Linked DNA regions of Homo sapiens. The protein of the gene in region 1 interacts with the protein of each later gene in a pairwise test. Each region holds a gene or a part of one and is shown in the gene's direction. Other genes may lie near its edges.

What was found.
Region 2: the proteins of COX6A2 (region 1) and SNX21 interact in a two-hybrid assay, tested with the Homo sapiens proteins (one large-scale study listed by BioGRID and IntAct).

What each region holds. Positions count from the first base shown.
Region 1 is NC_000016.10:31,426,969-31,429,687, reverse strand, and holds COX6A2 (cytochrome c oxidase subunit 6A2, mitochondrial precursor), read left to right. Parts: upstream 1-1,327; 5' UTR 1,328-1,362; coding exon 1,363-1,435; intron 1,436-1,536; coding exon 1,537-1,673; intron 1,674-1,830; coding exon 1,831-1,914; 3' UTR 1,915-1,957; downstream 1,958-2,719. UniProt on the Homo sapiens protein: Component of the cytochrome c oxidase, the last enzyme in the mitochondrial electron transport chain which drives oxidative phosphorylation.
Region 2 is NC_000020.11:45,840,060-45,843,864, forward strand, and holds the end of SNX21 (sorting nexin-21), read left to right. Parts: exon of another isoform or gene 1-246; coding exon of another isoform or gene 247-399; intron 400-579; coding exon 580-1,254; 3' UTR 1,255-1,778; coding exon of another isoform or gene 1,779-1,897; 3' UTR 1,898-1,973; coding exon of another isoform or gene 1,974-1,984; 3' UTR 1,985-3,217; downstream 3,218-3,805. Other genes in the region: ACOT8 (acyl-coenzyme A thioesterase 8), read right to left, coding at 1,779-1,897, 3,468-3,662. UniProt on the Homo sapiens protein: Binds to membranes enriched in phosphatidylinositol 3-phosphate (PtdIns(P3)) and phosphatidylinositol 4,5-bisphosphate. May be involved in several stages of intracellular trafficking.

The sequences.
Region 1 (2,719 bases):
AGCCCTTGATCAAAGCTAGAAGCTTCCTATTGGATTGTAATTCTGAAAAGGCATTGTTGTAGGGTTAACCAAAGTAACAAGGTTCAAGCATTCATTACATACATATTTTTAGAACACCTCCTTCATGCCAAGGTCCCTGCCCGTTGCTGAGGACAGAACAGGCAGATGTCATCCCTGCCTGGTCTTGTGGCTTTCTTGTGACCTGCTTTGATAGAGGGTTCACACCAGCCCTGTCTAGGCTTGCTTTCTCCAAGTAGTCATATTTTTCAGATTGAAATAATGCACTTTGCAGTAGACACCTGTCAGGCTTGTGGCTGCCTGGAACCTTTTGAATACTCATCCTAGACCTGGAGATTTTCCCTACAATTCCTGCCTCCCTAAGGCAGAATCCAGAGCTCAGTTTCCCATCCCCTCCTGCAGCTGGGGGACCTAGGGGTTGCCAGTTGGTGCAATCACATAATTCTTTCAGAAAAGAGCGACCCAGGATACAGGTTTCATGAAGAATCTGTTTTCAAGAGGGGATGAGGGTGGAAAATTCTGGTTTTCCAGGGCAGCCTTAATGAAGCTTTTGGCATCCAGGGTCCAGCAGTGTGAGCTGTGGGGGTGTCACTGCAGCTGGCCAACGGAATGACTTGTTTATGACTGTGCAGACTGTAGGCATCTCTGGCTATATCAGACATAGTAAGCTACCTAAGATTCTCAATTACTTATCTTCTAAAACTAGTAAGAGTGAGTTCTGTTCTTTGCAAAGAACTGTGACTAATACATATACTGAACTACTGTTACCTGCCAAAATCCAGGTTGACACATTCCTACCTTACATAAACTTCATAAAAATGATGTAAGGGCCGTGTAGTGGCTCATGCCTGTAATCCCAGCACTGTGGGAGGCTGAGGCGGGAGGATCACGTGAGCTCAAGAGTTCCACACCAGCCTGGACAATATAGTGAGATCCCCGTCTCCAGTATTTAAAAAATCTTTTAAGGTACGAATTATTATACATTTTACAGCTGAAAACACTGAGACTCAAAAAGACACTTAATTCATTCTACAAATATTTATTAAAGCCCAACTGTGTGCCAGCCACCAGGCATAGAATAGGGAACAAAATAGTTTCCCTGCAACTATATAAAAAGAATGGCATATTGTACTTAAATGCCTCCTTGCCAAAATAAGAGGCACAGGACAACAGCTGTCTGGAGATGACCTCAAGCCAGTCAGGCCCCATTTTAAATATAGAAACCCCTAAGAATAGCCGCCAGTGCTCCAGACTCAACAGGTGATTGGCCCAGAGAGGGGAGGTGACCCCAGGCCCCAGGAAAGGGAGCGAGGACAGCGCTGGTTCCCGGCTCCCCGCACCATCATGGCTTTGCCTCTGAGGCCCCTGACCCGGGGCTTGGCCAGCGCTGCCAAAGGAGGCCACGGAGGAGCAGGAGGTGAGTGGGGAACGGGCGGATCCGGGGGCTCCCCTACCCTGCCCACCTGTTCACAGGCCCGCCGCCCCAGGACCGCCGCGCTCACCCCGCTCCGTCCGCAGCTCGTACCTGGCGTCTGCTGACCTTCGTGCTGGCGCTGCCCAGCGTGGCCCTCTGCACCTTCAACTCCTATCTCCACTCGGGCCACCGCCCGCGCCCCGAGTTCCGTCCCTACCAACACCTCCGCATCCGCACCAAGGTACGCGGGACGGGCGCGCGGGCGGCACGGGGGTGCTGCGGGGGCGGGGGGGGGTGCTGCGGGGGCGGGGGGGGGTGCTGCGGGGGGGGGGTCGCGCGGGGCGCGGACTCCGGACTCACGGCGCTCACGCGCGCTCCCTCCCCCGCTCTCTCCACAGCCCTACCCCTGGGGGGACGGCAACCACACTCTGTTCCACAATAGCCACGTGAACCCTCTGCCCACGGGCTACGAACACCCCTGAGGCCCCGGACGCCCCCGGACACAATAAAGGTGTGAAGCTTCGAGTCTGCGGCTCTGTGGGGAGGGCGGGGCCACGGGGAGCGCGCCCAGAGGCGCCCGCTCCGCGCATGCGCCCAGCTTGGTAAGCGCTCCTGCTCCGCGCATGCGCCTAGCGCGGTGGGCGCTCCACGTGCTTTTCCCACGCCGCTGATACGGAGGTGCTCGAGGGAGCCTCCTCCACTCACAGGTAGGCGATCCCAGCTCCCTGTCTCTCACCTGGTAATAATGAGGCCTCCCTCTCACACACACCTATTAATAATTAGGGCTCTAGGCTGTAATGGGCTTCCGCGTACACCGAATCCTCACAGTAACGCTGGGAGCAGGGTATAAATTTAGTTCACCTTCTCCCGAGGAAGACCTGAGATTCTTGGGAATTAAATGACTTGTCCAAGTTCCGGCAGCTCGGCAGAGCCCCCATGGGAGCCCAGGGCTGCAGATCCTGAAGTCCCACTTCTTGCCTGACACCTGAGCTGCTGGTGTCTGTGAATCCCAGCTCTCTGGATTTCAGACGGAGGCTCCACAGTCCTGTGTGTGAGGCCTTGGGACCTAATGCTGGATTTGGAATCTTTTGATAATTCTCTATAATCTTTCTTTCTTTTTTTTTTTTTTTTTTTGAGACGGAGTCTCGCTCTGTCGCCCAGGCCGGACTGCGGACTGCAGTGGTGCAATCTCGGCTCACTGCAAGCTCCGCTTCCCGGGTTCACGCCATTCTCCTGCCTCAGCCTCCTGAGTAGCTGGGACTACAGGCGCCCGCCACCGCGCCCGGC
Region 2 (3,805 bases), on another chromosome or scaffold:
GTGGACCCAGAGGGGGACTCCCTTGCCTGGGTCACACAGAGAAGGAGTAGCTGACCTGGGGTTAGAACTTGAGTCCTAGGCCAGTATACTTTTCACAGTTATGGCAGTTGTGGCTATCTACAGACCTGTCCTCTGGGTCTAGTTTGGAAAAGCCTGACCAGGGATGTGGAGGCCAGGTGTCCAAAGTGGAACAAGCTCCAAGCTGGTCCTAAAGGAGCCCCAAGAGATTGGCTGGGGTTTCAGCTTATGTCTGGTTTTCCAGAGGGGGCTGTCAGAAGAACTAATGCTCTATGGGAAGGGAGTACAAAAAAAGGGGCAGCAGCCCCGGGCACTGAAGCTCATCTCTGTCTTTCTCTCTTCTTGCTGCCTTGGGCCTGGGTCATTTCAGACAAACCTCAGGTAAGATGGGACTGGGCTTCCCCGCCACTGCGCAGCAGCTCCCGCCCTCCTGGGTGCTGTCCCAGGGGTGAAAGGAAGAGGTGGGGAGGTACAGCTGGGAGTGTGGGGGATGGGGAAGGATGGGGAGGGAACGGGCCCGTGGACAACTTGCATTTGCCCTGACACCCACCCTCCCTGCAGCTCTACACCCTCGCCGTGATCGGCCCAGGACCGCCAGATTGCCAGCCAGCCCAGATCTCTCGCCGTTACTCGGACTTTGAGCGGCTGCACCGAAACCTGCAGCGGCAATTCCGGGGCCCAATGGCTGCCATCTCCTTCCCCCGTAAGCGGCTGCGCCGGAATTTTACTGCAGAGACCATTGCCCGCCGTAGCCGGGCCTTTGAGCAGTTTTTGGGTCACCTGCAGGCAGTGCCTGAGCTGCGCCATGCCCCGGACCTGCAGGACTTCTTCGTGCTGCCGGAGCTGCGGCGGGCACAGAGCCTCACCTGTACTGGCCTCTATCGTGAGGCTCTGGCACTCTGGGCCAATGCCTGGCAGCTGCAAGCCCAGCTGGGCACCCCCTCTGGCCCAGACCGCCCCCTGCTGACCCTGGCTGGGCTGGCCGTGTGCCACCAGGAGCTGGAAGACCCTGGAGAGGCCCGGGCATGCTGTGAGAAGGCCCTGCAGCTGCTTGGGGACAAGAGCCTCCACCCTTTGCTGGCACCCTTTCTGGAGGCCCATGTCCGGCTCTCCTGGCGCCTGGGCCTGGACAAACGTCAATCAGAGGCTCGGCTCCAAGCCCTGCAGGAGGCAGGCCTTACCCCCACACCACCCCCCAGTCTCAAAGAATTGCTCATCAAGGAGGTGCTGGACTAACCCTTGCCTAGATTTAAGGCCACTGTGAGGAGAGGGGTTGCCCCAGAAGGCAGGGGAAGGACCTGATGAGAACAGAATAGCTGGGAGGCTGCAGAGGGTGCTGGGAGCCCCTAGAAGTTCCAAAAGAGAATGTGAAGCAGATCAAGGAAACTTCTGTTGAGCTAGGCTCAGGGTGAGCTTTGGCTGGGGTTGCCCTTGTGTAGTACAGGGAAGTCTGACACAGCCTCTCCAGCCTATAAACAGCCGGGGGGCTGTGGCACAGGTTGGGGCAATGTTCCCTTGTTGGTGGGCCCCCAAGCTGGCAAGGCCTCTTGGCTGAAGGCCAGGGACTCTGCCCCTGGAGTCCTGGAGTTAAGGGATGAAGGCAAGGCTGCAGGTCTGGCCCAGGGGAATTAAAAGCCAGCCACTCCAGTGGTATCAGTCTCTTTATTGGATGTGAGGGCCAAAAGGGACTGTAACTCCTGTCTCAGGAATGGGGATAGATGGGAGGTTCTTGAAGCCCCAGGCGAAGCTGGTACCTCTGGCTACAGCTTGCTCTCTGAGACCTGGGGCTTCACTCGGATCACGCCCTCCTGGGCACAGGTCACAGCTAGGACTCCATCCTGACGCCACAGCCGCCCATGGACCAGCCCCCGAGAGCCACCTGTGGGTGAGGTGAAGGGTGATGATGGCCTGCTTCAGAACAGCCAAATACACTTTTTTTTTTTTTCCTGAAACAGAGTCTCACTAAGTTGCCAGGCTGGTCTCAAGCGCCTGGGTTCAAGGGATCCTCCCGCCTCAGCCTCCTGAGCAGCTGGGATTACAGGCGCACATCACCATGCCCAACCTCCAAGTGGACTTCTTGCAAAGGGTCTGGCCCAGGGCAGGGCTGCCCCACACAAGGGTGCACTGAGTGTCGTGGCTGCTCCAAATGCCCCTTCATGAGCTTATTATGGACCGTCATTGAGGGGTAACTCCTCCCACAGGAACCCCAGTTGACAGTTTAAAAGCACTTTCACACCTCTCCTCGCTTCCTCAAAAAGATCACAGAGGGAGGAGCTCTGAGAACAGTCTCCTTCAACAGCTCGGCCAAGCAGAACTGCTGTACCTCTGACCACTTGTGTTAGGAAAACTATCGGCTCCCTGTATAATAAATCAAGCCAGGTCCTCCAAGTGGTAATTCATGAAAAATATCCCCACTACCACCACCAAGGGGAAGAAAGGACTCAGAAGAGAGGACTTGAGGCCATGAGGTCTGGCCTCTTCCCTCCCCATCTGGAGACTCTTTCTCCCTTGCTGGCTTTGGGCCCAAGTTTGATGTTTATGAGGATGATTGCTGGTTTCCCTTACACATAGCAGAGCTCACTCAGTTCTCACAGTAGCCAAATGAAGCAGTTATGTGTTGTCCAGTTTTCCAGACCAGGACTGAAATCCAGAGAGGGTCAGGAATTTGGCCCCATGATGAAGCCAAATCTGAACCCATGTCCTCACTTCAAGGTTATCAATCTTGGATTGTGATGCTATTGGTACTTGAGAATACCCCTTATCTGAGTATAAAGAATCCTTGAGTTTTGTCCTTGGTTTATCAAGCAAAGCTTTTCTTCATTTGAAATGTACTCCCTTGGAAAGGAGGTCAGGGTTCTGAAGCTAGACATTGATGAACGAGTCTTGTTTCTCTCCCCTGCAAGGAAGGTCCAAGCAGGCCCTTAGGGACCACTGAATGCCCCGATCCCAATCAGGTTAATCAGAATCACTTAGAGAACTTAAAAATACAGTTTCCTGGACCTTATCCAAGACCTACTGAGTGAGAATCTTGAGGGTGGAATCAGAATCTATTTTGAAAAGGCATCCCCAAATGGCAGTCTGATGGACTGCGGGTTTGGATACCACTGCTGTAATGTAACCCTCTTTGTTTAGATGAGGAAACTGAGGTTCAGATGGAAGATATGATTTGCCTATTGTAATACAAAGAATCTGAACTGGTTTTGGGACTAGAACTGGGTCCCTGGGAGAAGGTGAATCACATTTCCAGCACATTCTAGAAATTTAGAGCAGAGCAGGTGTCCCGGCCTCACCCTCTCATTTTGAAGATGAAGATGCCAAAGCCTGGGAGGGAAGGAAAGGAAGTGACCTGTGCAGCGCCACACAGGAAGTCGGGAAATCAGCATCACCCAAGAAAGCAGGCTCCTGCCACTCAAGGTCAGTGCCCTTGTCCCACACGGCCCCACACTCACCGGCCCAGGGGCTCTCGCATTCATAGAGCATCCAGTGGTCAGCTCGGAAGGGGGCGTGGAACCACATGGAATGGTCCAGTGAGACCATGAAGTGCACCTTGTGCTGCCACTGGTGAGGCAGCAGTGCAGTGCCCAAGAAGGCATAGTCGGAGATATAGGCGGCCACGCAGCAGTGCATCTTCATGTCGCCCTCGCCTGCAACAGGTCCCCATCAGCCCTGGGCTCCTGGGCTTTCCAGCTCAGGACCTGCACGGAGGTAGGGGGAAAAGGGACTCCCGTGCATGGGTGTGCAGACTGGTTGCTGCACAAGAGCGCTTGGCCTACAGTGTGTGTGTGTG